Homo sapiens: one gene and its partners. The protein of the gene in region 2 interacts with the protein of the main gene of each other region in a biochemical or structural test. Each region holds a gene or a part of one and is shown on either strand. Other genes may lie near its edges. The genes, in order: KCNJ12, LIN7A and PALS2.

The links.
Region 1: the proteins of LIN7A (region 2) and KCNJ12 form a complex in vitro, tested with the Homo sapiens proteins (2 studies listed by BioGRID and IntAct, with this or other methods).
Region 3: the proteins of LIN7A (region 2) and PALS2 form a complex in vitro, tested with the Homo sapiens proteins (one study listed by BioGRID).

The regions. Positions count from the first base shown.
Region 1 is NC_000017.11:21,370,043-21,382,051, reverse strand, and holds the start of KCNJ12 (ATP-sensitive inward rectifier potassium channel 12), read right to left. Parts: upstream 5,696-12,009; 5' UTR 5,139-5,695; intron 5,133-5,138; exon of another isoform or gene 4,726-5,132; intron 1-4,725. UniProt on the Homo sapiens protein: Inward rectifying potassium channel that probably participates in controlling the resting membrane potential in electrically excitable cells. Probably participates in establishing action potential waveform and excitability of neuronal and muscle tissues.
Region 2 is NC_000012.12:80,789,607-80,797,292, reverse strand, and holds the end of LIN7A (protein lin-7 homolog A), read left to right. Parts: 3' UTR 1-4,773; downstream 4,774-7,686. UniProt on the Homo sapiens protein: Plays a role in establishing and maintaining the asymmetric distribution of channels and receptors at the plasma membrane of polarized cells.
Region 3 is NC_000007.14:24,565,862-24,578,400, reverse strand, and holds the start of PALS2 (protein PALS2), read right to left. Parts: upstream 4,950-12,539; 5' UTR 4,808-4,949; intron 4,436-4,807; exon of another isoform or gene 4,123-4,435; intron 1-4,122.

The DNA of each region.
Region 1 (12,009 bases), on a different chromosome or scaffold from region 2:
CAGCTCTGTCCACCAACAAGCGCCACAGTTCTTGGACAGTGACCTCTCTGAGGCTCAGTTTTCTCATCTGCAGAATGGGCTGACAATGCTGGCTACCATTGCTACCAAGCACTCACTGCATGTCAGGCACCAGGCCTGGCTGAAGCAGCCCATTCACTCTCTGTGTTTACTGGGCGCCTGCCATCTCCTGCCTACCGCTTAGGCACTGGGGACACAGCTGTGGTAGAATAGGTCCAAAAAGAGGAGATCCTATTCCAAGGGAAAGATAGACAGTAAACAAGATCAGCAAATAAAATATATTGTGGCAGATAGCATTAAGTTCTACAGAGAAAAATAAAGCAGGAAAAGGAACATGGGGGAAAGGGAGGCTGCAGTGTCCCACAGGGGAATCAGGGGAGGTCCTGGAGAGAGGGTGGCATCTGGGCAAGACATGAAAGCGGTAAGGGAGGGGCCGTGCAGAGATCTGGGAAAGAACATTCCAGGCAGAGATAGCAGCATGTGCAAAGGCCCTGAGGTAGGAGTGGGCCTGATCTGTTGGAAGCACAGCAAGGCAAGCAGGAGCGTGGCCCCGGGGAGGGAGCAAGAGTCCTGGAAGTGAGGCCAGACTGTGCAGGGCCCTGAGGGTCCCAGGGAGGAGTGTGGTGGGAATCGACAGAGGGCCCTGACACCCAGAGTGCACCAGGCACATAGAAAGTGCTCAAGGAACAATGGCCCAGAGTGGCTCTGGTAGAAGCCTCCACTCCATAAGCTTTATTGTTTGTTCCCTGGCCCCTCTCCAAGCCTGAGTCCTTCAAAGAGGCCTGGGCTGCAGGTGAGGGCAGGAGAGGGAGGCTTTGGCTGCCCAAGCAGGAGGGAGGGCTCAGTCCAGGTGGGCAGGGGGAGTCAGGCAGGATCCAGGAGGCTGTGCCCACTGACCCTAGGACAGCATTAATGCACAGCCAAGGCGGAACTGCTCCCTGGGGCAGCTGAGAAAGGGGTTCCCACTCCTATCTGGCCAAGCAAATGGAACCATGTCCAATGATGCATGGCTGAAGGCTAATTAGAGGGCTGGGCGGGGGTCCCCAAGGTCTCCACAGCCTCATGCTGCCACTTCAGCAGCCAGGCAGGAAGGAGTGAGCTGTGGAGCACCAGTGGTGGTGATTGGGGTTAGGGGACACTGAGGACACACCAGGAAACAGGAGGCCTGCACTGGGGCCCACTGCCATCTGGGGCCCACTGCCATCTGGGGCCCACTGCCATCTGGGGCCCACTGCCATCTGGGGCCCACTGCTACAGCAACTCGCTGCCCTGCCCTGGGCCTGCTTCCCTACATGTCCAAGGGAAGGTTGGATGGGGAAATGACGAGTTCCCCAGGCTCTGGCTCCACAAATGCTCACACCCCCTCCTTCCCAGATCCCCCTCTCCACACGTCCATTTCTACTGAGACCAGCCCCTCCCCACCCCCAACTCCCAGAGGCACGCTCCAAGTCTCACATTCCTACTGCCCCATCCTGAGCACTCTCCGGAGCCAGTCCCACTTCACAGATGATGAACTGAGGCCAGGAAGAGTGACCCCATCTTGGTGGCAACATCTGCCTCTCTTGCCCCCCTGAGTCTGTCCAAGAGTCTCCTCTGAGATAGTGAGATCCCTGAGGGCAGGGGCTGGGTCTCCCCGTATGCAATGCCCATTGATTAAGCACTTCTGTATGGCTACCCAGCACAGGGGCCACAGCTAGGCAACAGGGCCTGGGGTCTCCAGCCCCAGAACTCAGCCCCCACAGCTCTCACCAGCACAGCAAGGCCTCTGTGGCTGGAAGAAGCAGTCCAGACATGGAATCATCGAGCATTTACTGGGCACCTACTCTGTGCCAGGGCTTAACTAGGTCCTAGGAATACAGCTCCCGGGAGCTGGGATGGCATGCAGGCCTCAGGCCCTGTGTGGGACCTGCCTGGTGGTAAGGCAGGGAGAAAGCTAGCCTGGCAGTCAAATGCCCCTGAGGGGTGTGTCTGTGGAATGGGGGAAGGTGCAGTTCTGTCCCTGGGAAAGCACCAGGGCTCTGGGTCTGAGCCCCACAGGCTGGTGCCTCCAGTGCCTCCCTGGGCCTCCAATCCCTGTCTGCACAATAGAGCTAATGCCACCCTCTGCACTGGCAGGCCATTAGGAAATTAAGTCAGCTGACCCAGGGCTGGGTCCTTGGCCAGTGCCCAGCGGGGGCTCTGGTCCTGCCCCGAGCCCAGCACCTCAGAAAACCCACCTGCCTCTGCCAGGCCCCCCCCCACCCCCAACCCCATGGTGCCTCTGAAGCTCTGGCCAACCTGCACACGGCCCAGTTTCAGGCCAGCTCTCTTTCATCTTCAGCCTTTCCCTGCTGCCGTGTCCCCATCACGCTGCCAGTTCCCGGCACAGCCATCCCGTGGGGCTGAGCCCCCACCCACCGCACCTTCCATGTGGCCAGCCAAGCCTCCACCCCTCCTGCTGCCCGCAAGCTGCCCCCTCCCTGACTCTCCTCCACGCTAGCCGGTGGCAGGGCTCCAAGGGCAGGCCCGGGGAGGGGCAGGTGTACCCATGTGTCGCTCACAGTAAAGCCCTGGCCAGGGCCCAGCCACAGGCACCAGCTGCACCTGTTGGAGGAAGGGCCCAGCCCAGAGCTGGGCCTGGGAGCAGGGGGGGTGAGGGTGGCCACTGGGTGGGCACCGTGTGTACCAGTAGCCTTCTGCCTGGGGACCTGGCGAGGGCCACAGAGGTTGATGACAGTAATGATGCACTCACTTCCGCCCCAGCCATATGCCAAGGCCTCCGGGTGCCACGCTTGGTACTGCCAACTGTGGCCCAGGGTACCGGAGGCCTGGCTAGGCAGAGAAAACTGCCCATAGGCAGAACCGGCCCCAGTGCTGCAGAGCTGCAGGTGCTGCTGCTGCTGTTACTCCTGTTATCACTGCTGTCATTATTATTTTGCTGTTGCAGGGCCACTCAGTGTTACTTTGTCCTGCTTCAAGGAGACCCAGGGATGGGGACACCATGGCCCTGGGGCAGGAAGGCTGGTGGGGTAAGCGCCTGGCCTGGAAAGAGCTAGGTGAAGGCATCTGTCCAAACCCAACCCACTGCATGGTTTTAGGCAATACCCCTCCACCACTTCCCAGGCACCTCTTCCTTCCAGCACAGTTGAGGCACATTCCTGGAGGGGTCCCCTCCGGGGCAGCCTGGAAACCTTATGGGGTTTTGACGGGGTAGCTGCAGGGGGAGTGTCCAGAGATGGACTGACAGCTCAGGTCCTGCCCCTCCCAGAGAAGGCTCCACCCCCTTCAGTGCTGGGGATGAGGGGTGTCAGCCATGCCCTCCCCTGGGAGGGGAAAAAGGAGGTGATAGAGGACTTGGAGCCCCTACCTGCCAGCTCTGGGTCAACAGCCAGCATTTACAGACTGCCTACTGTATGCCTACAGCGGCCCTCCAGTGGAGAAGAGGGGTGTCCCTGTGGCCCAGCACACTGGAGCCACCCTCCTCGTCTCCAGGGTGCTCGAGTGAGTGCCCTCCGCCCTCACTCCCTGCTCTCTCTCAGGCGGCTTGGCCCCACCAAATGGCAGGCCCCCAGGGTCCCCCTCCTAGAGCTGCCAACCTCGGGTCCCCTGTCTGGTTGGAGGTGCCACCAGAGAACTGAGGGGCAGACTTCGCTGTGAAGTCTTTTGTTGGGGGGGGCGGTCCCAGCAGACACTGAGGGGCTCTTCTCAGAATACAGAAGGGAGTACCCCTCAAAAAGAGCGAAAGCCTCTGGTGGCGCCCAGGGCTGAGATGGACCTCCCCTCTCTGACCCTCGCCCGCCACAGGGCGGCGGTCCAGGGCGGAGCTGCGCGAGGAGGGGCCGCGGAGGTGCAGCGCAGCGCGAGGGAGGCTGGGGTCCAGCCGCGCGGCCAGGGACCGGCTCTCCTTTGGCATCTCAGAGGGGGCGAAGGCTAGGCCCAAGGCTAACGCCTTCCGGGTTCGCACCTTCCAAAGGCGGCTGCCGATTTCAGTGGCGTGTGGGCGCCTCGGCGCTCTCGGAGACGGAGCCTGTGAACCTGGGTTTGGGGCGCAGATGTGGGAGCCAGGAGGTCCCCAGCGCTTTATTGCAGGGCTCGAACCTGGGTATAGGGGAGCAAAAAAGAAACTAGAAATGGCCACAGGCAGCGCGGTACTCTAAGATGGGAACGCCCCCTGGGAAATGGGGAGGGGGAGGTCCCAGGTGCGGGCGAGTCCAGGCTGTGAGGAGGCAGGAAAACCTCCCAGAACAAGACCGTCCCCAAAGAAACACTTTGACCCCCATTCTGATCACAGGTTTTAAAATATTCACATGACATGGGCACGCTGGATCAAAACCGAGGCACAGACACTCGCTTGGGCCTCAACTCCCATCTGAACCCCCCAAGGAGCGCCCCACCCCAGCTGTCTCTGCCCATGAGCCCCTGATTCCCGCCCCGCTCCCCCAGGGCACCCGGAGAGGCCGTGCGCGCGCAGGGTGGACCCTGGCCCTGAAACCCTGGGAGCTTCTCAGCCAGCGGCCATCCCCTCGGAGATCAAGGCCGACTTCTAAAAGCAAAAGGGAGCCTCTGGACTTGGCTGACTTGCTGGCATGGAATCATTTCCAGAATATTTTTACTCCATTACAGCACGGGAGGTGAGAAAGAGACACGACTCCAAGAACCCGCAGGTCTCTGACGGGAGGCATTCTCGGGGCGGCTCATATAGCCCGGGCGCCCACCTCCGAACCCCACCTCGATCGCGGGGTCTCCGGGAAGGTCACGCGTAGGACCCGTGCCGCGCGCCAGAGTGCTTCCGCACGCTCCCTCCCGAGCCCCCTAGTGCAAACCAGTCAGAGGGGGGCCGAGGGCTCCTCAAAGTTTCCCGGAGCGCCCCCCAGGACGAAGGTTAGCCAGGAGCAAAGTTCCTTGTGGTGGTAGCCGGAGACATGGCAGGAAAAGAAAAGCTCGCAGTCAGCATTTCCTCCGATGTCTCACCAAGGGAGGGAAAAAAATAAAACGAGAGGAAGAAAACACCCTCCCGCTCCACCTTCCCTGTTGCTGCACAACCTCGTGCTAGCTCCGGGCCGGGCTAGTGGCGAGGCGCGGCCTGCGGGGAACTGGGGCCGGGCCCGGGAGGGACCATGCGCCCGCGGCCGCGCACTTACCTCGGTCAGTGGCCCGGGCGCGGCGCGCTCGGCGTCCTCCAAGCTCCGGGCGGCCGTTCCTGGCCCCGGCAGCTGCCGCGCTGGCTGCATCGCCGCCGCTGCCGCCACCGCCTCAGGGCAGCTCCCGGGGGCGCTCCATGCCGAGGGGCGCGTCTTCTCTGCAAAGCGGATCGCCCTGGTCCAGCCACGGGTCGGGGGCGCGCGCCTGGACGGCGCCCCCGGCCGCTGGGCGCTCGCTTGGGCCGGGGCGGCTGGCGTCGGTCCCTCGGTCCGGCTGTGAGCACGGCCGGCCCACCCCCTCCCCCGCCGGCTGTTATCTGATCTCGGGCAGGGCCCGGCGCGCTCCCCTACGCCCCGGCGCCCCGCACCTCCTCGCAGGCTCTGACCGCGCCAGTCCCCCTCCCCCGGCTACTGTTCCCAGGGAGGCGGCAGCAGTGGCGGTGTGGCCGGGAGAAGACGGGGAGCGAGGAATGGAGGGCGAGGAGGCGGCGGGAGGCAGAGGCTCGGCGCGCACCCAGCTCCGCGCCTCGCTCCACCGGAGCTCAGCTCGGCAACTCCTCTAACTCTCCGCGGAGAGCACGCCCGCCCCGCGCCGCGCCGCGCCGCGCAGCCGCTGCACCAGCCTACCACGGCTCCGGCCTGGCCCCGAGCCCCTCCTAGTCCCGGGCCGCCCCCTACACACACACCGCCAGCCACTTGCGCACTGGGACGCGCGCGCGCACACACACATATATATATACACACACACACACACACACACACACACACACACAGGCACGACTTCCCGGGGACATGCGCGCACACACACATACACACACATGCAGGCACGTCCGCCGGGGACACGCGCGCACGCACAGGTGCATGGCGAGCACACACACAGGCATAAACATGCAGGATACATGCCCCCACATGCATGATGTTCGCAGGGGCACATGTGCACACTCGCTCATATGTGCACATGCAGGATGGCATCTGCACGTGTGCATACGCACACACAGGTCTAAGCTTGTGCATTCCCACAGAGCCCTTTTCCCCTGCACACCAGGCACGCACCCTCTACACACACCATCCCACCCTAATAGCATTTTTCTCCTCTCCATCTTGAGCTGCTTGGCTTCTCCCATCTCCTGCCTTCTCTGTGCTCCTCCCTGGACCTCTCTCTGCCGACCGGATCCCCATGTGACCCCCTTCTCTTTCGAGCCCCTGTCTCTGGAGGCTCAGGCTTTCTTCCCAACCTGTCCCCAAATGCCCTGCCCTCCCAGCTTTCTGAGGCCTATTGTCTGGGCCTCATATCTCTGAGCCTCCCGCAGGGGCCAAGTCTTTCATCCTGGCAGACAGACCTGCTCGCCTGGACACTGACCCAGGGGAACTCCATTTTGTCACCAGTCTGACCCCCAGCTCGGCCCTAGGGCCTCAGAATTGGGCCGAGGAGGCCAGTCTGTGCCCAGAGCATGAGCCTCAAAGGGCTCCTTGGCCCCCTTGGCCTCCAGCTTCCCCTTTAATGTGAAATATAATTATGTGTCTGCACAGCAGGGAGACTGGCTGCAGGATTCTAACCGAGGAGGACGGCTCTCTGGCCCGCACCCAGATTGCTGGCGGCTCAGAGCAGAGTGATCTGCAGGCCCCACCAGCCCTAGGATCCTGGCCCCAGGCAGCTGGTGGGTGAAATCCAGCCCAGCACTCACCGACATCAGTCTGCCCTGGGTTTGAATCCCACCTCAACTGACTAGCTGTGGGACAGGTCACTTCACCACTCAGTGCCTCTGTTTCCCTGTTGTCAGTAGAAATCACTACACTCATGGGGCTGTAGCAAGGATTAAATGAGATGAGTCTACCTAAAGTGCTTAGCACTTGACTTGGCTGGTAAAACAGCCAGGCGGAGCACTCAATATGTTCTGAGCTCTGTGCTATGGACCCAGCTAGAATTATTTCATTACCACTGCGGCCATCTGTGGTGGATAAGCTCATTGGCTCCATTTTACAGATGAAGGAACTGAGGCACAGAGGGGTGGTCACTTGCTTAATTACAGAACTACCAGATGGTGGAGCCAGTACGCAGAATCAGGTGTGTCCTCAACTTAGGGCTGCAGTGGAGAAAGAAGGGGCATCGCAGAAGTCTGCAGCCCCCACCCTGCCCTGCCTGGCACACTGTGTCCTGGTTTCCTCCTCCTCCTGGGAGAAACAGCCTCCCAGGGGACCAAAAGCTCTCAGGAAACTTCCTTCTTCTCCCTCCGAGTGACCAAGGAGGGAAATGACTCAGCTCCCCACCTGCCCCTGCTCCATTTCCCAGATGGGGAAGCCCAAGCCAGCTGCGGAAGAAGCCTCAAACCAGCTCCCACCCTCAGAGACCACTCAGCTGTCCCAAGAGGAATGGGGCCTGAGACATCCCTCCCTCGAGGCCTTACTCTGGTGGCCTAGAAAGGGGCAAGGGAATGGACGGGAACACCTCAGGGCTCCTCTGGGTCTAAGATTCTGACAGCTCCTGGGACAAGTGGCTGTGCCCAGGGCATCCTCACGCCTGGAACACCACCCCCCCCTTCCCACACACACACACACAGGGCCCCTGCCCAGGGGCTCGACACCCAAGATGACTACTGTGAGTCAGGCCAGGTCTCCGCCCCTCCCTATCCCCACTCCCAGAGCCATTATCAGACCCATTTCACAAAGAGGGCAAGCGTCTTGCCCAAGGTCACCCAGCAGAGACGCAAGCCTGACTCCCTGGGCCACTCCCTTGGGCTCCACGTCCCACCCTCCCAACCCACGTGCAGGGTCAGAGTTCAATTCTTAATTGTAATTGCAACCCATGAGCAGCCATTAAGGGCCCCTCAAAGCAAATCCCCTCTGCCACGCCACTGGGCACCAGCCTCCCTCCAGGAGGGGCTGGGACACAAAGAGGCAGGGATGTGGGCAGATCTCTCCCTAAGCAGCTCACACATCTGCCCCAGGGATCCCCACGTGGGCAGAGGGGCTCACGGCCCTCCCGGGGTGCTGCGTGAAGCCTGAGCAGAGGACATCCTGCCCCTACAGTGTGGAGGGGGCAGTGTCGAGAGTGGCTGGGTGAGGCCAAATGGACTGAGCCCAGTACCAACGCTGCCCAGCAGGAGACCTGGGACACGTCCCCTGCTAAGGCCCCACTTCCCTCTCTGTAAAATGGGGGTGATCGTGACAGCCGAGGCCATGAGAGTAGTAACTTTCCTGGCACAGCCATGGGAGAAGCCAGGGAGATGAACAGCAGTCAGCTGTCCCACCACGCACACACCTTCCCAACACCCTGAATTTTGTGCCCTGCACCTGGCTTTCCCTTGATCCCAGATTCTTTCTTCCCCTCCAGGATGGGAGCTTCTCCAAGACAGGGGTGAGACTGAGGCTTGTTTGCAGCCCAGTCTCTCCCAGCTTTGGGTGGGCGTGTTGGCTGTTCAAGACGCCTTTGCATATCTGAGTGTCCCTGGAGCCACAGGCCCAGGAGACAGAAGAGCTCCTCGGCTCATTTGGAATCATGGCTTTGTTTTGAGGAAAGCAAGGCCCAGAGAGGGAAGGTTGCTACGATGACCACTGAGCTGTCCAGGGCAGGTGTCCCGAAGGCTGGTTTCGCTGCCCTGTGTGTAGGAGCCCCAGAGCTGCAGCCTCTCGACAGCAGCTGCCAGCTCTTGTGGTAATCACATCTTGATGCCACAATGCCGATGCGCTTGTGGGAGGCATAAGTCCATCACCGAGTGAGATGTGAAACCAGACGGCCCTTCCCCAGCGGCTTTGCTCGCCCTGCAGGCAGCTGCAACCAGTGCTCCCCAGAGTCCCAGCATCTCCTCCCCTCCAAGATGCCTCCTCCCAAGAGCCCACTGAGACTTCCCCTGCCCACCCTAGACCTTGGCCCGGCTTTGGCCCTCACGTCTTCCCACCATCAAAATGTAAAATGAGCTCTCAGCATGCCCAGTTTAACCTTTCTAGGAGTGATAGCCAAAGTCCCTGAGGCCCCAGACACCCTCCCCCTCTCAGCCACTCTTTTCTGAACACACTGGCCATTCAGGCCCTTGGGCACCAGTAGCCTGATTCTGTCACTGGACCTTGGGGCCTGCCTCCCCCTCAGTCAGGAACGCTGTCTCTCTGAACTGCCTCACGTGCAAGGGTAGCTGTGACGGCACATCCGTGAGGGGCCTGCCGACCACCAGGACGCACCTGCTGTGCTCAGCTTGCTTTCTTCCCTAGCTGGCCACTCTCTGAGGTGTCTGGCTCACTGTGGTCCCCCCACCAGCATGGCACCTCCATGAGGGCAGAAGCATGTCCTTCAGGCGTGTCTGCAGCCCAGGACCTCACATGCTGAGGGCATGCAGTGAGTGCAAAACGAGTGCTCACAGACCCGACTCAGGAACGTCTCATCCATGAGGGATTCTCTCACCCTGCTCTGCGCAGCTTGGCTCTCACAGCCACTCCCAACTCCACCTGCACCATCACCGAGCCGCGCTGGCCCCTGCAATCACAGGCTGTCTGTCAGCACAAGCCTTGCCCCCTCCTCCAGGCAGGCGGCCAGGGTCTGGGTCTCACCTGGCCTCCCACCCCCACCCACCATAAGGCCAGCAGGAGGACCTGTGCTGGTCGGTTCCAGGATATGCTCTTCTGGTGGGGTTGCTTTCCACCTGAGCCAGATCCACACCCTGGCTGGACAAGGTGGAAAGAGGCTCTGTCCCTCAGGCAGTGAGCCACAGAGCAGAGACCAGTTCTAGCAGCCCTGCCCTCAGCCCAGTCTCTTCCCTAAACACCTTTTGTCACTAGACACTTTGATGATACTAACAACAGCAAAAGTGACAAGGGCCAATGCCCACCACGCACTTGCCATGCATTAGGCTCCAGGCTAAATGCCAACCTGCGCCACAGGCCACAGGCAGATGGACGGAGAAATGACGCCCAGGTGGGTAGAAGCACTTGCCCAAGAGGACGTGGCTGCCCCCAGGAGCATTGTGGGGACATGGCCCAGACCCAGGACACAGTCACACCCACACGCGCACGTGCATGCACACACGCCCCTCCCCCTGCCCAGGTGCCCTTGGGCCCCTGGCTGACCCTGCAGCATTGATCTGAGGCACACAGAACTTCAGGAACGGTTGGCGGCCCTGGAAACAGGACACTGAGTCCCTCCTGCCCCATCAGGAGGCAGGCATTGATCAGCTGGGCCTGGAGCTGACCGGTTGACTTATTTCCCGTGTGCAGGCTCCGGCACTCCCGTGGCCCCGCCCTCTGCGGGAGGAGCAGCTGGGAGGAGGATGCACTAACTGTGGCCAGGAGGGCAGCCACCAGGGCCAAGGTTGAGGCCAGGACGTTTAGCCATGCTCCATCTGGCATCTCCTGGGCAGACCTAGGTGTCAGGGTTTCTGTCTGGCTGAGAGACTTAGAGGCATGCTGGACACTGGTCCAAGTCCTCCCATGTCCAAGCTGCTCTTCTGAGAGCCTTGTTCTTGGGGTCTCCCTACTCCTATACCATACCCTCCACCATATGTTTCCTGTGGGCCTGGGGCACCCCCAGGGCCCAGGGGTGGGTGAGCGACCCAGGTCTGGCTGTGAGCATCACAGCAATGGTACAGAGATGGACACATGATTGAAGCCAGCCAATGAGAATCAGCCCTAGGACTTTTGCTGGGTCTGCAGGAAAGCAGGAGCTGTATTTCCCAGGGCTTTGGGGCTGGCCAGGGGCCCCGGGGACACCTTTGCCCCCAGGTAGGGTGAGCCTGCATGAAATGAGACCCACCCAGAGAAAGCAAAGCTGAGATATTGAGAGAAACAAGGTTCTGGGCTGGTCTTTTGAGCCCCTTAGATCCACCCATGGGCTTTTTATTGTAAGCCAAAACCACCCCTTTGTTAATTTAGGAAATTTCTAACAGCCTCAAGGGGCTGCCGGGAAGGCAATAGACGTAAAAAGACCAGCAAGTCCTCCAAAATGCCCCTCAAGCTTTCTGAAGCTCTCTCTCCTTCTCTAAAAAGGGGCGCATGAGAACCCTGCCAGAACCATGTGGGGACCACACTCTATGGTATGTGAGGGGAGCGTTTCATCCCTCCCTGCCTCTAAAGGGACAGAGCTTCCAGGAAGGCGGGCAAAGCCTGCAGGCCCCAGGAATAAAGGGCAATAAAGAGAGGGAGGGAAGTGGCTGCAGCATCTCTCAGAGTTAAAAATAGCTTCCCCAAGGAGGCCTCCCCGCCGGGATAATCCAGCCAATTATCAGCCCCTCTCTACCCTGGTGGGCACTGCCTGCCTCCTCCCTGTCCCCACGTGGGGCCATCACTCCACAGATAGGGCCTCTGCCCCAGCACCAGCCCCATGACCCTCCTTCCTCATGGGGGCAGGGCTCCAGTCCTTGGCCCGGGGCCCCTCTGAGTTGGGCCTGACTGAAATAGAAAGGTCGATCTGCCAGTTCTGACAGCAGTGTGAACTGTCCAAAACACACTGTCCCCCCAACACACACAGAGAAAAAAAGAATCAAAAGGCAGCGTGGGGCCTGTTGCACGACTCTGTTTATGTTAAGAAAAACGACAGATATATTTGCATTAGCAAAGAGAAAAATCTGGAAGTTTGGAGGCAAATTGTTGGTGGTTGTGTCCTCCTGGGACCTTTTCCTCATTCACTGTGGCACGGAGGAAAGTGTCTAAACCTGTTTCCCCAGGGCTCTGGGCTCGGACCCACCTGGTGGGATCCCAGGCCACCCATTGCAGGCGGGAGACGTGGGCAAGCACTCAGCCCAGCCTCACTGGGCCCTGAGGAAGGAGAGTCGCTTGCACTCTGGGTACGTGGGCACATTGTACGCTTTCAGGGCTGTTTGTTTGCATTTTGTATAGCAAGCATTTATTGTTTCAGCAATTTTTTTTTAAGTCAAGTTATTTGTAAATG
Region 2 (7,686 bases):
CTCCTTACCCTCACCTGCTCCACAATCCATAGTGCTGAGTTGTCTGAATTGGAATTCCAGTTAATTGCAAGTTCAACCTGTTTTCCTCTTGAAAATCGCAAGGTATCATACTATATTTATATTTTCTTCAGGTTCTAGAAGCAATCGGCTTTTTCTTTTGTTTCCATGAATTTTATTATGCATTAATAGAATGGACCAATTTTAGCTCAACTTTTAGTTTGTTAGAAGCAAGTGTAGGAACTCTAGCACTGTAGTTTTTAATTATTGCTTGTATCTATTATTATTAATTCCAACAGAGTATAATGTATATTTATTCTATAAAATATATATTATCAGAGTGCATTTGTTACAACTTAGGTTCTTTTCTTACCAAGTATTAAGAATCTAGTAAGAGAATACTAGCAAAGGACCTAGCCCTGTGAACAGATTCTCGTATGTTATATACATAAACCCACTCTCAATATTTTTTGAGTTTTATACTTTTTGATTGATAAACACTGAAGAAATCTAAACTCTACTCACACTGATGTGCTGTCATAGAAGCCTATTTCATATTTTAAAGCTTAGCAAAACTAAATTATATGTGCATATATATTCAAATATTTGTGTCACACAAAGTTTAGGTCAATTTCCCCAAATATAAACCAGATATTTTTGGCACTCTCAGATAAACAAGTATTATTTCTCTTATAATTGGGCAGGTGGAAACCAGTGATATCAATATTGTGAATGGCAGATGCTGCTTCCTCTAGAAAAATAAAATAAAATCACCAACTTTAATATATTCCCATAGGTAAATAGACAATGAGATATCATTTTTCAGAAAATATCATTCACTGGAAAATAATCTGTTATAACTACATTTACAGGTCATAATTTTTGGTTTATGGTAAATCTAGGCACCTAAGTCTGATTTTACTTTATGAAATAAATAGGAAGCAATAATTGTTTGGGCATTTGAATACCTTAAGCACATAAATGAACCTAAGAAAAGAATAATTGCTTAGTTGAAGTATTCAAAATAGATCAGTAAACCACAGGCAAATATTTGAATGTTCCCTTTTCTCAAATACAGAAATTGATTCCCCAAGATACAATACAATTTGACACTTCAGATAATCCCCCAAAATAGAAATGTATGAAGCTCAGTTTAGACTGTCTTCTTGAAAATAAAACAAAACCAATCAAAACTACCCAGCACATTTTATTATGCCCTGTTGGGTGATAGTATTGTCAATACCAGGTTTTCCCTGCTCTTCACAATGCATCCCTCACCAGAGGAAAAACAGCAAGAAAACTAGGACATTTGCTAATTTCAACAATACACCCCTGTGATAACAGATTCCCATCCTTGAATACATATCATTTTTTACTAGAGAGAACGGGGGTGGTGAGGTGGGGGCAGTTAGGACCCTGTATGTTATGTAAAATAGATTTACAAAAAGGACAAGCATGATAAAAGGGAATGAATGGAGACGATGTATTATTCAGTTTGAAAGAGATAGTTCACATTTTTATAAGAAAAATTTAATAAAACATATATTTTAGTTATCATTTAACAAAGATATATTAAAGCTATTCAGGCAATGCCACAGGATTCTCATGAAGGGAAATCACTGAACCCTTGTCATGAGAAAATGGTCATTTCAACACATTTCAATACATTGTATAAATTTGGAGCTTAAGGTGAGTGAGTATGTTTTCACTTAGTCATAAATGTTTGGTCAAAATTAAAGTTATCATATGGTTTCACATCAATACAAATATTGTCACAGTGTTACAGAAACAACTATCAAATGGTAAGATAGTTTACATTTGTGTTTTCTAGAAACCTTTGTATTTATGCTTCATTTGGTTAATGTTAAGTGCTGATAAAGGCATACCAGATTGTTTGTCAAAGTAAAGAAGCAATCCATCACACCTAGGACATCTAAGGATGGATTATACGTCAGAGTGGTCTCATATACAAATGACCATTTTCCTTCAGTAAAATCTTGTTGGTTGAAATGTAAGTCTTTTCCTAAAGTTTTAATCAGAGGTAGCCATCACTAAGACTTAAGCCACCTGTGGTTCTCTTAAGTTTCACTGAAGCCAGAAGAAGGAAATTACCACAACTTGTATTATACTAATTATCTTCATTATTAACGATCATATTAGAGCCACTGACATGTCCCAAATTATATTAAAATAAAAACCTGCATTGCTCTGACATGAAGCTCAATTCAATGTAATAAACAAATTAGGTATTAAACGTTATAATTTAAAAAACTTCTACGATATCACCAGAAATCCTGGTGAAATTTAATTTTTTCCCTTTTTTAGGTCAGTGGCCGGTGGGATAGATTTTTCTAAACTTTTTCCTGCTATGATTTTGAAGGCAAATACATAGAGCACAGTTCAGTAAAAGAGTTTCCAAGCCTTTTCACTGGAGCATTTACATTTTGATTCTGTTGTCATTTGAAATAGAACATCTGCAGGGAGATAATGAGCTTAAGTTACAATTGACTTTGGAAAGAATAACAGACTTTTGTGTTTCCTCAATCATGTAGTCAATAGGGAATTCTCCAGTTATGTGAACAATCACAGTCTTTTAAGACAATACTTAGATCTAAATGCAAAATCTAGCATGCAGAGGCTTTTTAAGGATTTTAGACTGTCTCCAAAGAACTTGGCTCGAGATGGATTACACAGATTTACAAATGCAGTTTTCAACTGTGACATCAAACTGATCTTATCTCATTTCATGTTACTCAACTGTGCCCGTAGGACCCCAAGAGGTGGAATATTTTGTCTACATTATTTTAAACATCTATAGATATGTGTGGATGTGTGAATAATGCCTAAATTTCTCATCTTTTAACTAGTTTGTTTTTATCATACAGACACAGCCTGTTCATAAGACCAGCTTTAGACAACTTAGAACTCAATGCTCTGAAGATTCAGGGAGGCCAACATAGAAAAAGATCTTCCAAAATATGGGGTGGTCCAACCCATCTCATCCCTCTCTAGCTGGAAAACTATAGAGAAAGGGCTGTGACTGCCTTGACCACTGCCTGGCACAATGTAGGCACTCGGTATTTGTTGGATGAATAAGTGGCTGAATCAGTGAATAGACAAAAAACATGGATTTTGCCTTCTGAAAATCTCACAAATTTTACCAGCTTATATTATACTGATTGTCACTATGATTTCTAAGTTTCATGGTTAGAACCATATTTTGAGTCTATATAAAAACTTTTTAGATGTATGAATTTGAAATTTCATTAATTACTTTAAAGGCTTCAAAGATTTGAGGACATTTGAACAGTGGATAAGGAACAATGTTTGGGGATACAGAGTTTTTATGCTGAGTTGAACTCAACCTTTCTAGTTCTTTATACAAGCTTCCTGAATTATCTGGCAGGAATGATTCAAACATAAAACCCCATTTTTAAATTTTATAAAAGATATTTTCATTTTTATATAAAAAGATCATCAGGCATATTATCCCCTTTGATATTTATTAACAACCATTCTCTAAGAAATTCATAATAATTGGAGACACCATCCCTAAATCTCTTCCTATTTTCAAAAGATCATTTATCCTTTCATATTTGATTCCTGGAATACACTAAGCTGAAGTTTAATCACATACTTACTCAGATGTTTCCATGTGTTTATTCATTTAACAAATACTTATTGTGTACCTAGTGCATGCTAGGTTCTGGAAATGCAACAGCAAACAAGACAGACACAATCCCTCTTGGAGGTTACTGTGAGAAACTCTCCAACATTTACTCTAGCAATAACTAGAGAGTTTACTGTCCATTGGGTCCTCTTCACACCTGATAGAAAAAATAAAATTCCTCACCCCATGGAAGTCATGAAATACTCCCTGCACAGATTTGTGTGAGCTTGCTTTTCTAAAACCACTGCTCAAAAATGCTGCTTAGTTTATCTATAAACCACGGTTATACCCCAGTGAGGTAGGTAAGTAATTTATTCATAACTAACATTTATGCAGCTCTATTTTCTAGCCACTGTGCTGAGTGCTTTTATGGACTATCTCACCAAATCCCTTCAACAACTCTATTCAGTAGGTTCCATTTTATAGATACAAAAACTGAAGCACAGATATATTATGTGACTTGTCCAAGGTCACACAGCTAGCAGGTGGAACTGGGATTTGAACCCATGCAATCTGACACAAGAGTTCATGTGTCTAATCATTATCTGTGGTTTGGGGGACACCATTACATTAAAATGAATGAGTCACTAAGTGAGTCACTGTATATAAAATACTTGGAAATTGTAAAGTAATATACAAAAGATATTAACAAAGTATTATTCATGGTAAACAAATCACATCAGTAGCAAACACAGGGTGGGAACTCAATCTTATGTTATAGCTTACTCTTAAGAAGAATATGTGAAGCCAGGAACATGGTTAAAGGTACAGACCAGAAAATTTCTGACATGTGATAAATATTTCAGTGACTTTTCAGATTTATTTCTTGTTAGCCGCTGTGTCTATTTGGTGCTACAAAAACTGAAAGAAACAAAATCCCTGATGTAAGGGCTTATAATAAATACACAGTTTGGAGATGAACTAAGGATATTTTACATTTACGGGAAAGGATTGGACAATAGTATCATTTTCTCACCATTTGCATGTACATCATGTCTTTCCAATTGTTTTCATTATTTTTCTGAAAGAGCTGCAAAATTGTGCAGTGGTTCAACCTGACCAAAGTGGTATTATGCTGCTGGGAAGTAAAAGTATTAGACACCAAACTGGAAGTATTGTTTTCATTATCAAATGACTTTAAGTTCTTTTAAAGCATGGATGTAAAAGAATTTTTAGATACTGAAGACACCTCAATATTGGGATGCTAAGTTTCTTGGGTTTCTCCATTCTTGACCACACAGTGGTGTCATTCTATTGAGGGCTTAGATTCTGTAAAGGAAAAGACAAATTTTTTTTTTTTTTGCTTTCTAGTCTCAAACTCAACATAGAACACTTCTGTGACCAAATGTAAAGGTTTCCCCACCCCCCCACCCCATCAATTTTCCAAGCAGGTACCAAATGGATGTCCTATAATTCAATTCAATTCTGAAACTATTTACTTGAAGATGGTGTAGATTCCACAGATTGAGGGCTCAGTCTCACAACACTTAGCCTACTTAAGATGCCAATTGCAAGTAGTAGGTTGTCACCTGTCCTTTGACTGGCTGGAGACTGAGATTCTCACAAGCCCTTCTTTGGGTTCAGCTGGGACAGCTCACAAAACTGAGGAAAACACCTACTTAGTTTACTGGTTTATTATAAAATGAATCATAAAGGGAATTTTTACCCAGTTCAAATTATATGGTCATGTAGTTACCAGAAACCTATATTCAAGAATGTTTATCAGTGTCCTTTCCATCCTTTCACAAACCTCTTTGAAGACACAAATATTCTAGGATTTTGCTTGCTTGTGAAGTTTTCAGAAACTGCATCAGAATTAAGCAATTAACTGTGGAAATGACTTAAGATAGGCATAAGGACACAATCCACAAGGAAATTTGGTTATATCTGTGGCCTACAATAATTTAACATATTAACCATAATTATGAGTGATAGTCTATACCCAGACATATCAGAATTTTAGGAGTCCCATACAATTTTGGAACATATATTAATAACATATTTATGAAATACAACTCAAAGAAGGTTAAACATCATTTCGTATTTGATAAGGCTTCCCATGTAATTTAATACATCAAATAATTCTATTTCTCTCGCTTTTGGAAGCTGCAGGGACCTTCTCTAGCATCCTAACTTTAGAGGTCAAAAAAAAAAAAAGACTTAATTATGAAGATGAAATTTGATTTTAGGAAACCTGTCAAATATGTGTTTTAAAACACTTAACCAAAATAGAATCACAGGCCACTGTAAAATAATGATCATCCATGTAGCCAAAATAATAATTTAAAGATTTTGAAAAAAAGCAAAAACCTTTACTCTTTGAGAGAAGACCCGGTTTCCCAAACAATCAAAATACCTGAGAGATAGAGCATGAGATGGAATATGTCTCTCTCTCATCACTGTTTCTTATTTTTTGCTTTTTACTCAAAAGGTGAACAAAAACATTTTACTGACATATTAACACTACAAAAAATTTTTGTTCAAAAGAGAAAACCAAATTTTACTTTTGGATTAGTATATTATCAACACTAAAGCTAATTTTAATAAAACCTTATAAATCTATCAGATCTGTCATCTTATAGCCACACAATATTTTCATACACACTTTTTTGTTTTACATTTTCTAGCTCTTCCAAACTCTCTATATTCATTTAGTTTTACCTATTTCGTATTCAATTTGAAATTTTTAAGAAACTTCTACACTAGACAAAATTATTTTTATGTCAACACACACCTTTATGCCTTTACAACTTTCCTCACCAAAAGCGTATCTTGCTTTTGTTTATACATTCTGTATAAATAATTGTTTTTTTCATATCTAGTAGTTTTAATTACATTAACTCCAATTTTAACTCTCAGTAACCCTAATTTCTAGTGAAAATATTAGGAAGAAATTTTGAACTGTTTTATATCAGTATTTATAGATAAAAAGAAGTTTATAGTTTTTTAGAAAGACATTTTCCTAAATTATTGTTAACAGATCTAAATATATTTAGCTTTTCTATACTGTATAAAAATAATATGTCAAGGTATATAGACTTAAACTCATGCCTGATAACTAATATTTCAGTATTTTACCTTATTTAAAAATGACTCAGGCATTTTATGACTATTAATTTAACAAAAGTTGACTTTAAAATTTTAAATTACTGAAAATAATTTTGAAACTGTTACCAGGGGTCCTTGCTCCCAGAGCTCCCAAGATGGTGGTGGGCCACTTCCAAGATGGTGGCAAGACTCGTGTTCTCTGACCTGGGGTTCTTGGCCTCACGGATTCCAAGGAATGGAATCTTGGGCCATGCAGTAAGTGTTATAGCTCTATTAGAAGTTGTGGGTCATGGAAGAGAACCGTGGAACCCAGTGACTAGTGTTCAGCTGGATTAGGATGAACCCAGGCACTTAGCCATGCAGGAACAATGGCAAGCCTTTAACCCAATCGGGAGTGGCAATGGGCACCTTGCTGGATCAGGAGCACAGCGGGCACCCTGCTGGATCCAGAGGGATGGAAGTCAGTGGCGGGTCTGTGACAGCGGCAAAACAGCAGTGGTGGATGGTGAGCGAAAGCTCAGCTGGAGCCGTAACAAACATGGACCAGAAGAGTGCAGTTGCAAGATTTAATAGAGTGAAATAGAGTGAAAACAGAGCTCCCATACAAGGAGGGGACCCAAAGAGGGTTGCCGATGCTGGCTGCAATGCCTGGGTTTATATGCGGATCCTTGTCCCTCCCGCTGGGCTCTCAGGCAATAAATGATTGGCTATTTCTTTACCTCCTGTTTTTGCCTAATTAGCATTTTAGTGAGCTCTCTGATTGGTTGGGTGTGAACTAAGTTGCAAGCCCCATGTTTAAAGGTGAATGTGGTCACCTTCCCAGCTAGGCTTAGGGATTCTTAGTCAGCCTAGGAAATCCAGCTAGTCCTGTCTCTCCAAACTATAGCACAAATACCCTACCCAATGTCTTTCCTAGTCATCCTGGGTTCCAGATAGCCACGTGGCACCCAAGAGGACTATGAAAAGCAGGG
Region 3 (12,539 bases), on a different chromosome or scaffold from region 2:
TATCATTTTATAAAGGAGCATTTGAACACCGAAACCTCAGAAAGAACATGACCTCAGATTTTTTAAAAGGATGATTTATTTAATGACAGCTATGTGCCAGGAACAGGTCTAAGTCCTTGAAATATAGTGTTAATCAAAAGAGACAAGATCAGCAGGGTGTGGTGGTTCATGCTTATGATCCCAGTGCTTTGAGGCACTGAGGCGAGAGAATCCCTTGAGATCAGGAGTTTGAGAGCAGCCTGGGCAACACACACAGCAAGACTCCATTTCTACAGAATTTTTTTTTTTTAATTAGCTCGGCATGGTAGTTGTTGCCTATAGTCCTAGCTACCAGGAGGCTGAGGTGGGAGGATCACTTGAGCCTAGGAGTTCCAGGCTGCAGTGAGCCGTGATCACACACACCACTGCACTCCAGCCTGGGGTGACCGAGTGAGATTCTATCTCAAAAACAAAAACAAAAAGAGACAAGATCATTGATATCACGGGGCTTATATTCTAGTGAGTATGGAGATTATAAAATAATATAAAAACATAATTTCAGATACTGATAAATGGTTTGAAGAAATTTTTAAGTAAAAAAGGTAATGGGATTGAGGGGGATGAGGCTAGTGTCATTCTGGAAGGATGGTTAGGTAGCAATGCTTGTCTGAAAAGATGATATTTGAACTACAACATGAAATGATGAAAAGTAGTCACTCATGTAATGATTTAGGAAGAGTTCCCAACAGAGTGAACATAGTGCAAAAGCCCTAAGTTAGGAGCAAGCCATGGCATTGATGAGGAACAAAATGAAGGGCAATGTAGATGAAATATAGCAAAAAGTGGAGGAAGAGGGTAAAGAAATGATAGATTTAAGAGGAAAAGATGTAAATTGGTGAAGGAGGGATTAAATCATGTACAAAACTAGCAAGCAGTAGAAAGGATCTGAAAATAACTTGAGCTTTATGAAATATTCATTATATTGTCTTTAATTCTCATTTTGCCTTGTATCAGTGATAACTCTGACAGATAGGCTTTTAGAAACTTCCATTCCCAAGTACTTAACACAATCCTAAAGTTAGCCAGAGATGAATATATTCCTAAGCAGAAAGTATCTCTTCTAGTACACTATATTAAAAAAAAAAAAAAAGGAAAAAAGGAAAAAAGAATTTTCGGATGAAAGCAAAGTCATCTTAAAGGAAAGAAGGAAAATAACCTAGGATGAAGGAAAAATAGAAACTAATTTTGTTCTGTTCATTACTCTGTGAATATACTTACTATGATAAAGATTATAGAAAGGTCTTTGAATTAGTCTATCATAATTAAGGAAGGTCATAAAACTTAAGTTCTTTCTAAACTACTATAAACGTAGCAGCCTCTGTTTACTGAGTTCATTATTATTGAATTGGACATTAACAAGGTTAAATACTGTCAGAAAAGAAAAAGTAGAAACCAGGCTTTTGACTTTATTACACCTGGTAATAATGGTCACAGCTTAATGGTTAACAAAGTTGTGGGCTTTAATCTTATCTATATGACTATGATAAAGGAAGAACTTCCCCTCTGCGGTGAAATGAACACTAAAATTAGCTACATGGGATGCTTCAATATCTTCTCCTCCAAAAGCTTTTTATAAGAGGAGACCAATTTGTTTAAAGGGTTTGGATATAGATACACTTCACAGAAGAGTGATGATCTTTCCAGATCCTTCCAGACAACTAATATCTGTGTACTCTAAGCAAGCAATTAAACCTACACTGCTTCTAAGATTAATGCAAGTAAAGTCGGATCTTTGAAAGCTATAATGTATTCAGGAATCTTATCTTTCATTATGTTAGAGGCATACTTAGACCACTTAACAGTAGACTGTTAATAACACAGTCTATAAAGAATGATACTTTGTAAGCATGCTGTGAGTTAAAGAAAGAAAAGTCATTAAACACCTTGATTGAGACTTGCTTCAGAGTGCATCCTCCTCAGCACACTACCCAGCAGTTTGACAAAGTGCCCAGGATTAGCAGCCAATGTATGTAAAGAAGGAATATGGTCAAGCCCAATTGTAAAGTCTCCCCCCAGTGGTCAGATACAAGTAACAGAAAAGGAGGAAAATCATTGCAGCTTCTGTGAGACTGAACAGGAAGACTAAACAAAACTGGTCCCTACAACAAAAAAATAAAATCTTTAATTCAATACTAGCACCATATCAGGAAAGAGATCTCTTGTGCTTATCTGCTCTTATATTTATAAATGTGAAGACTACTTTTCTAAAGAACCTACAGTTAAAACAAAACTAGCATAATTTTTCTCCGCCTAAGTTTTAAGGAATAACTGACATATTCCCAAACAGTTCAGTATTTATCAAATGGGTAAGTGTTCATTCTTCCTGAAATAAACATCAGCACATCACTTACATGGTTAACTATACTTACCTGAAGTAGAGTTCTGATTTAAAAAAAAAAAATCTAGTCACTCATCAAGTGAATCACTCTGGAAGGAAAAATTATTAACTATTATATACCTAATGTGAATTTTACAAGATACTCTTTTTCAAAAGTCACCTAGCAATAGGTAATTTATATTAGAGTGATGTCAAAAGTATAAATGCGTCCTCTTACCTCTTTTAATTTTATTTTCTGGCTGTTTTTTTACAATTAGCCTTTGACTAGCACTAATCCTGTATTATTTGTAACTCTCTCAGCAATAATATGATGCTACTCCATTTTTACAAAGCTCAGATGTCAAAAATATGAAAGACATTTAATTAAAATATCTGTTTTATTCTGCTAATCCATTATTAAGTAGTAAAGCATGTAAAGGGATAGTAAATATTCAAACAAGCAACTTCAATTTTAAAACAACTTTTTAAAAAGATAACACATAGAGTCACAGTTATGTCTTCTTGGTTATCTCAAGCTAAAAAGAGGGGGAGTGGGGAGAGAAAGAGAGAAGCAGGCTATGTAGTGCTCTGGAACAATTTCAGCCTAAAATGAGACTCAGAAGCAAACTGCTCCCTCAAATGTTTAAAAATATGATTCATTTTTAAAAATCCAACAGTTGGCCTAAAGAAAAAAAAAGATTCTGTCTTATATAGAGCTACTAGACTTGCTTAAACACCTTAATTTTTCCAGTGTTGATTTAACCTAGAATGCAAAATAATTCATTTTGACATTCCAGATGTCAAGAATTCGGTGGCATCAGTAAGGACACATACACACCTCTTTCATAAAGATGGTGTGCAGTCTCCATAGGACAAAATTGAGCAATTAAAAGTGTTACCATTTGTGTATTATGTAACCGTAGTCCAGAATGAAGGAAACATGGACCTTAAAGAGTAACACATCGTGCAAACACGCATTTAAACACCTATTTAAATATATGATAGATTTAAGGTACAAATGACCTCAAAATGACACAACCCACAAAAGTTCTTTGTTTACTGTTAACAAGGCCTCAGAAGACATAACTATAATCAGGCCTACTACCCACTACCCTATCATTGCACAGTAGATGCCTACAATAAGCAATATTACTTGAGGTCCGTTGCTATACCTATATACGGAAACTATATACCGCATTACTAAAAATGTTACTTCGCCTGGTATATTCGACCAACATAAGTTTACAAATGATTTGCAAAATTTCACGGGAAGAAATGGCTGCTAAATCATACTCCAATTGAAACGCATTTTAACGCACCCCAAACGTTCTCAGCTACACTACAAGACCACTTGTAATATACTTGAAGCACAAAGTAAAATTCCAACACTCTCCAAAGGCGTAGGAAAGAATAAAACGTGGCTAGCCTGACCTTACCCGGCTGTTTATAAGTAATGCGGAGAATTTTCTGAGCTTCCCCGGCAGTCTTCAATTCTCTCCCTCGCTTCACCCCCACCCCCTACACAGATGCACACCCAACTGATGGAAGTTTAACAAATGTAATCTCGAGCTGCAATCCCAGAAACTGGTAGGATTGAGAATAAACTCCCAGTAAAGTGTTAAAAAGTCCTTCTGCAAAAAAACATCTACCAACCAATCCACATCCTGTCACCACACGGTCGGATACCTCAATCGACTCCCCTGCTGACCCTCCACCCAGCCAAAATAAAAAAGCCCCAGCACCTATTTGGTTTCAGACAAACGTACCGAGAATCCGCGAGCACGATCTCAGCAGCGAACGCCCCCGCGGCAGCCTGTGCTCGGCCCACAGCCACTTTGGCCAAACAACTGGAGTCTCGTACCTCGGAAGTAGCGGCGGTAGTTGGAGAAAGCCTCCTCCCCTACCAACTCCGAGCTCGGGAGAGAACCGGGAGCCGGCGGAATCACCCCCTCTCGGGACAGACCCCGGAGGTGTCAGTCACAGCAACGCCGCCCCCAGGCCGGCTCTCCATTCAGGCTCCACCGCGACTCCCGCCGCAGAGGTGTAGGCACCCAAGCCCCGCGCCCGAAGGGGCCCCGCGCGTCTGCGGCCCTAGCCCCAGTCGGGGCCGCGCCGGGGAGCGCGTGGGGAGCGGCGGCAAGCAGCATGGGCCAGACACGTTGCCGAGCTCCGGCCCGCCCAGCCGCCCGCAGCCAGAGAGGCAGGAGCCCGGCCGAGCGCCCCTTCCGCGCGGGCCGGGCTGGGGGCGGCCAGCAGCCTCCCCGACCGCGGCGCCGCCGCCGCCGCCTGCCGGTCCCTCTTCCCCGCGCCCGCCGAAGCCCAGGTGCCGAGGGGGGCGGGGCGGGCCAGGGTCCCCGCGTGGCGCGCCGCGCCGAGCAACAGGGCGCCCCCGGCCGGCCCGGCGCGCGGCGCGACCGTTACCCGAGCGGCGTGGGGGTCCAGTTAACTCACCGGCTCGCACCTCAGCCGCCTCCGCGCCGCCGCTGCCGCCGCTCCCGGTCGCTCCCCGCCGCCGCTGCTCTCCCTCAGCCACAGGCGCCGCCGAGCAGCCCCATCTGCAAACTCGTGGCTCGTAGTTGAGAACTGGAAATGCGTCTCTCACTGCCCTCCGCCTCCCTCTCTCTCCTCCCCCTCCCTCGCTCCCCACTCTGCCCCAGCTCCGGTCGCCCCCGCCGCTGCCTCCGCGCGCGCAGCCAGCCGCGCCTCAGCCGCCCTCCTCCTCCTCCTCCTCCTCCTCCTCCTCCTCCAGCCGCCGCCGCCGCCGCCGCTTGGGCGCGCTCCCAGCCGGCCTCGCGCGTGCGCCGGACGTCGGGGAGCGCGCGCTCGGGCGCGAGGAGGTGCCACCGCCTCCGGAAAGCCGGGCCCCGCCCCTCCCGCCGCGGCTGGGCGCCCAGGTGGAGCCCCCTCCCAGCTTCTGAGCGCCCAGACTGACTGCGCTCTGCGCCCGGCCGGCTCGCTTCAGGGGTCCCGGACCTGCGCCCGCGAGAGAGGGCTGGTCGGACCCAGTCCCCGCCGGGTCTCCTGGGCCGAAGTCGCAGCTGTCTGTCAGCATTTACGGGTGGGCAAGATACTCCTCGGGGCATAAAACAGGCTCCGCCCTGACCTTTCTGAGAGTTTTACATTCAAGAACCCAGTCGTGGGGCACAAAAGAGAAATGGAACGAGAAGAAAAGCCTCTGGAAAAATCTCCCCCTCCCCCTTCACAGACTCCACTGGATCTGATGTGTATTTGGCAGGTTCTACGGCGCTGACTGTGTCCTTCATTAATTTTTTCCCAAAGGCCCGACCGGGCAGTGTGATTCACACCCGAGGAAATGCATGGACACTGGCTCTTTTCATAGCACCGAGGCTCCCGTGGAACTCCCTGGGTCGGCTTTGCCAGACACTCCCTGGACACAGTTGTTCAGCTCCTCCCCAGCACCTGGGCTTCCCAGACCTCAAAAGGGTGGGGTTGGGGAGGGCATGCCATCCTTTCAGCCTGGACTCTGCGTAGAGCTTGGTGAACTGTGATGAGTGTCCGGATGTGTAGATGACACATTTTGACAGAAGTGCAGATTTAATTTTTCAGTTGAAAGGAACTGAGCAATGCACTGCAGCAGAGACTTCTGGCTAGAAAAACATAGCAAGGCAGCCAGAGAACTTCCGATCCCCTTAAAAGAGCTCTGTGAACCCTCAGACCTGTGACAGGCGGCTTTTGGAAAAACTATTGTGTTCTTCCTAAAATTGAAGAATGTAATTTACATTTTACAAAATGCTTACTGCAATCTTTTCAAACCATGAACGTAGAAAGTGCAAGTCAAACTTTACGTGTGAGGAGTGTTATGAGGTGGCCTCCTCTGTGCAGCCTTTCCTGGCTTCTCTTGGGCACCTTGCACAAACCAGACCATTAATAAGTGTTTGCAGAATAAATGCGTGCATCATGGCCCTTTGGATTCAGAGATGAAGTTATAAGTTGTATTGTCTCCTCTCTTTGTGAATGTGGCAGGCATGGAAGGGAGAGAGAAAATACTATTGATGAGATGTATTAAGAAGGTCCAGTGTCCAAAACAGTGATTTTTGTGTTTATCCTCAACCAAGCATCAAAGATTAATTTACTTTTCCATTAGGATCATTAATTTTGCAAACCAACATGCAGGGGGGCCTTGTACAGTGTTAATTTAGAACCTTCTTTCCTGGAACCACAAACCCAGGCAAAGGTAATTGGAAGCATTTAAGGAGACTCAAACGTGCCCAGGGCACAGAGTAGCTTTGGGCCCCCTGTAGTCAGGATGGCTGGATGAAATGAAGTGGAGTGGGCTCGGAGCCCAAGGCAGAGACAAAGCGGAAGGATGGGGTTTGTCTTCTCGGGGTGTCAGCAAGACCTTTCAGGTCCTTCTTGCTGCCCCAGGCCCACTTGCTTCTCACAGGACACCCATGGGTCCTCCCTGCTGTACCCTACCCAGGCTTGTGAACTCTTTTCCCTTCTGACTCTTAACCTTAACACATCCCCTTGGACCCAGCCACTTAGTTACTTGCCCTGAGCTTCTCTGGGGTTGGGGTGGGAGGTAGGGTATGAATGTCATTTCCAGATATGTTAGTGATCCTTAATAGTGCACTTTTATTTCCTCAAGGGTCTTCTGGAAACAATGTCCTAACCTACTCTACCCCTGCTCCCTGCAAGTAGAATGATGTTAACTGAGGAAGTTTTAGGGAGGGAGGGTTTGGGGTAGGCTCTGCCCCTCAAATTACATGCAGACCTACCTGACTTAAAGCTGGCACCACTCCTGGCCAACTGCTTTATCTCTGCATCTACCAGAGACCCAGCATTTGGGAGCAGGAATACAGGAACAATTATCTTTCATTTGCAGTTCCAAGTCTGTGCTCTAAGTAATGACAGCAGCTATCAGATGGAGGCTTATCACTGCCGTAAGACTCAGCTTCATTCTTAGAGTCAGAAAAATGATTTTGCTCCAATAACTGTCTTTGATTGCTCCCCTTCAGAAAGCTCTTGCCGGTGAAGTTCCTCTCTCAGTGTCAGATGAGTATTGTATCAAATACTCATATACAGTTATAAAAGGAAACACTATTTCCTTTTATAAATGATATTCCCATTTTATAACATTCTGCCCTTCCTCTAAACTTTAAAGGTGGGACATGCCAGGATAAATTTAAAGTGTTCTCAGTTAAACATTGGAACTCCCATCATTGGTTCCCAACTCAGCTTTCTGAGAGGTCATCATACTGAGACACCACCATCCATTTCCCATACCGGTTACAAATTCTTCATTCCAAGAAAGGGGAATGATATGATTGAGAATGATGGTGGATCTTTCTCTTCAGTGTCCTTAATAGTCTGACTTTTCATTTCCTTCAAGGTTACTCTAAAGGGATCATAATTTTACCACAGCCCAGTATCTCCCAACGGTAATTCAATTTAAAATTTGAATTTTGATTCTTAATTCAGGAGCATCCATCACTCAATTTTGTTTCCTCCTTCAAATGTAAACAACATACACTTTTAATGTGATTACATTTTCTTTTCTCTTCTGACCTGCTTTGCTCCTACAGAAATTGAGAATTTTGCTAATAGCCCCGAATTTTAGCAAAAGCAAATCCTGTGTACTTGTTTTTCAACTAATCCATCATAGTAAAAGCAGTGACACTCCTGGAGGATAGCTTTATTTAAAAATGCAACTGGCATGCATCACAAAGTCCAACCAAGTTTTCCTTCAGAATACTTTATTTAGCTTCACTCCTTTTATCTCTGCTCACAAAGCTAGGTCAGATTCCAATTTCCAGCCTCCTTGCTAACCTTTCTAATTCTAGCCTCTCTCTTGCTTCCTTGCAATTTATCCTATACTCAGAGCAGTGCTTCTTAATTTTTGGCTCTTTATTGAAATCACCCAGAGAACTTTAAGAAACAAAACAAAGCACTGATGCTTTGATGCCATCCCAGACTTAATTGCTCTGGAGCACAGCCTGGGTGCCAGGATTTTTTCAGAGCTCTCCAGATAACTCTAATACGCAGCCAGAGTTAAGAACTATGGAAATGAATCATCTTCCAAACAACATTTATACCAAATCTTCACAACAGTGGGGTAGCTCCAAATTACCTCGAGTAATCAAATTAAAATTCCTAATCCTGTGCTTTAAGACTCTTTGCCAATTGACTAGAATAGTCCCCTTTCAAAACAGCTTAAATTTATCTCCTTCCTAAAGCTTCTCCAGATTAGTCTCACCTGGCTGCCTGAAGATCACCGTTCCCAGCTCTGAGCATCCCGACTGGCACTGGTTTACAAACCGCTGGACCTCAGTTGATTGTGTACATTATTGTTTTAATCTTGCTTTCATAGATATTTGTCAGAGGCTTTTCTTATAATCTAAATCTTTCCAAAAGTCCCACTGGGTCAACTGTCTCAAACAGAAATGTCTTAGCAGAACTTTCTCCTCTAAACTAGCTGTCTGAAAAAACATTTCCTGATACGATGGCAGTTCTTTTTTTTTTTTTAATCATCACAATTAAAGCCAAACATTATAAGAACTTGAGTTTTGGGGTTGTTTGGTTTTTCCTTAAAAAAGAAAACTATATATCTCAGCATATCTCCTTGACTTTTCTTACCATTATTTGTTTATTTTAGGCATTGGAATTGGGCTTCCACACCCACTTCTCTGCTGAAACTACTATTTCCATCACAATTAACATTTTCATTCATGTGTTCATCCATTCAGTCACTCATTTACTAGTGAAGCATAATGAAAATAAAAAAATTAACAATATCAAGTAGTCCCTACCTAATGGCGAAGAATAATAAGCAAAATATTACATAATAAGTGCTATGCCAGGTGTCTTAATAGTATATGACAGAATTAGTGGGGAAGGTCTTTGCTTAGTGTTCATGCCATTGAACTTCTCTGCAGTGTTTGAGGAGGTTAATCTCTCGTACTCTCACTCTCTAAACCTCTCTTTTCCTTTAACTTCTCTGATACCATACCACCTGGGAGCTCTTTCGACCTCTCTGACTGTTCCATCTCTGACCCTTACTTTGCTGTGTTATCTCCTCCTACTTCCTAAAGAAAAATGTTCCACTAAGAATGAAATAAATTTTTGAGGAGAAACTTAAAAAGAGCAGATAGTACTGTTTATCTTGAGAATCCCAGGGATCCTTAGGACTCTAGCACCAATGCTTCCACATCTGTATCTATTCTCCCTTGAGGCATATTTTCAACTCGCTGTTGAAAATTTCCATCTAGATAAGCTATTCACGGGGTTGCTCCTGCTGGTTTTTCTGGCACCTTCCTTTCCTTTACCTCCTTTTACCATCTCCTGAACAAACACATACTCAAATCCCTTGCAGCCCACTTTCTCAAAATTATAGGAATGGATTCTCTTGTTTATTTGCTTTAGTCCTACAGAGTCTCCTAACTCATCTCCCTGCCTCAGGGCCTCCTTGCCCTGACTGCCAGGTGCCAGTCATTTTATCCCTGTCTCCTTACTGCCTACGGGACCCCATTTACAAGGTCATTCACAATGACAGTCAAAGCTTCCCTGTTTGGATATTCTAGTTAGTCATATCTTGTATCTTTATGTTTCTACCCCTGTTTTTGCCTTCTGCCATCTCTGCTGGCCAAAATCCAAGCATGTGTGCTCATCTCACACCCTCCTTTTCCATGAAACCCTTTCTGCCTCACCTCAAACAGAGGTACAGTAGTCCCCCAGTCCCCCCTTATTCATGGTTTCACTTTCCAAGGTTTCAGTTTTCCTCAGTACAGTATGATAAGATATTTTGAGAAAGAGAGACACTATGTTCACGTAACTTTTATGAAGGTATATTGTTATAATTGTTCTATTTTATTATTAGTTATTGTTAATCTCTTAACGTGCCTAATGTATAAATTAAAAACTTTATCATAGGTATGTATGTCTACAAACCATAGTACATATATATATATATATATATATATATATAAAATATGTACAGTGCAGTACTATCCATGGTTTCAGGTATTCACTGGGGGGCTTGGAATGGATGCCCTCTTGGATAAGAAGGGACTAGTGTAATTGCTCTCCTTTGAACTCCTGTAGCACTTTAATTGCATCTTATGGCTCCTTTCCTATTCTGCTTCATAAAAGCATCATTTATGTTTTCAAATATTTATCTTTGCATTCTTTTTACCGCCACTCAGCCCCATCCCCTTCTTTCTTGCAGGTAAAATCCAGGGTGATGTGTACAGGAATGCCTGTAGCACTTGGCATAGTACTGCACATAGTAGCTGCTCATTTATTGAAACAGATAAACCTGTTAGTTGGTAGACTTCTAAAATTAAATAAAATTAAGTGAAAAATGTTGCTAATTACAATTGAACACTTGTTCCAGAATATGCAAGTTACAGATGAAAAGCTCTTAGAAAGACAATCAGATTTCAAGCAGTGACCTTAATTGAGCTTGACTTTATCTCACCAGGAGCCAGCATCTATATGTAATTAACCCTTTTAGATACTCATTTAAAATCGGCCTCTAAATTCTACCTCTCCCATTATATATATGAACTGAAAAAAAAATCCTTCTACTCAAGTATCAAAAAGAAGATTAAAAAGACATAGGAAAACAGGAAAAACCTTTCTTAAAAATTTGTAAAAATATATAGTGTCAGTATAGTGTGTACCTTTCCCCATTGAAAACACAGACAGGCACGAAGTCCTGGAGGGCAGTGGAGGTCTTCTGGAAGAATCTTCTGGCATGACAGGCAAAAAGGGTGTCAATGGTGATTAAACATAAAAACAAAGGGTCAAACTGTGAGGCCGATGCTCCTCCAAAGGACTGAGGAGAAGTCGTGAGGGTAAGAGCAAGTCATTAAGATGCATAGTAGGCTCTTAAGACATTTTTGGTAAATAAATGAATGAAAGATGGATAGGATAAGGGACGTGGAAGCAATGATGGAAGTCGGGGTGTATGTGTATGAGTCGGGGCAGCCATGGCAAGCTGTTTTGGCTGTTAACAATCTGGGAAGTTAATGGCCCATTTTAAAGCAATGCCATCTTCATGCTAGGAAGTACAGGGCATTTAGTTTTTCCTTAAAATATCAGCTGTTTATAAATATGAAAGACCAAGTCTTTTTAAAAAATCCTGCTTTGGTAATAATAGCGAATGACAACTATCTATTGAGCTCATGCCTGTGTGGCAGACACTGGTGTATAACCTTCATATGGAGCATCCCATGGGGATCATTACTATTACTCCCATTTTTCAGATGAGAAAACAAGTGAAGAGGAGTTAATGGCTCAGGCTTCAGAACCAGGAAGTGTTTAAAGAAGCTCTGCTGCAAAACTCCTGCTCATTCCCACACTTCATACACAGAGTGCTTTGTAACTTTCAGGTCAATTCAACTGGAATGAATTATAGTACGAGTTACTACAATTAGAGGTTCTCTGTAGCATGTTATTTAACTCAGATTCACCACCACGATCTACAGACTTACTGTATGTGTGTATTTTAACAATGTAGCATTTGTGGAAAGGCTATCTATTTTGCATTAGATTCTGGTGGGACTACTAATCACCATATCCTCCCCATATTCTTAAATTACAAGAGTGGCCATGTGACCCAGGCCTGGCCAATAAGAGTGCCCCATCCCTTCAGCCATAGGGATTAGTGCAAGAAGTAGACATGTTACCTAAATAAAGAAAATTTTGGATTTTTCTGTACTGCAGTAGGAAGAAAGATAATTTGTTTTTTTTTTCTCTTTTCAAATCAACACTTTGAGAATCTCAAAAAAGGGAAGATTTAGTCATGCCTGAGGCCAGCCTTAATTCTAGACTTTTCTGGTTACATAAATTCATGAGACCTTTTTAAATTTAAGATAATTTGAGTTGAGTTTCCATCACTTGTCACCAATAGAGTTCTGACTTATAGATGATTTATTTGGGGCAGAAGCTATACCTTTATGAAATGCTAAGTCACAGTCTAATCAATACAAGTTGACGATCCATTATCTGAAATGCTTGGGACCAAAAGTGTTTCAGATTTCAGATTTTTTGGGATTTGGGAATATTTGCAAATACGTAATGAGATATCTTGGGGATGGGACCCAAGTCTGAACATGAAATTTATTTATGTTTCACATACACCTTATACACATAGTCTGAGGTAATTTTATATGATATTTAAAATAATTTTATGCATAAAATAACATTTGTGTTAAGTACT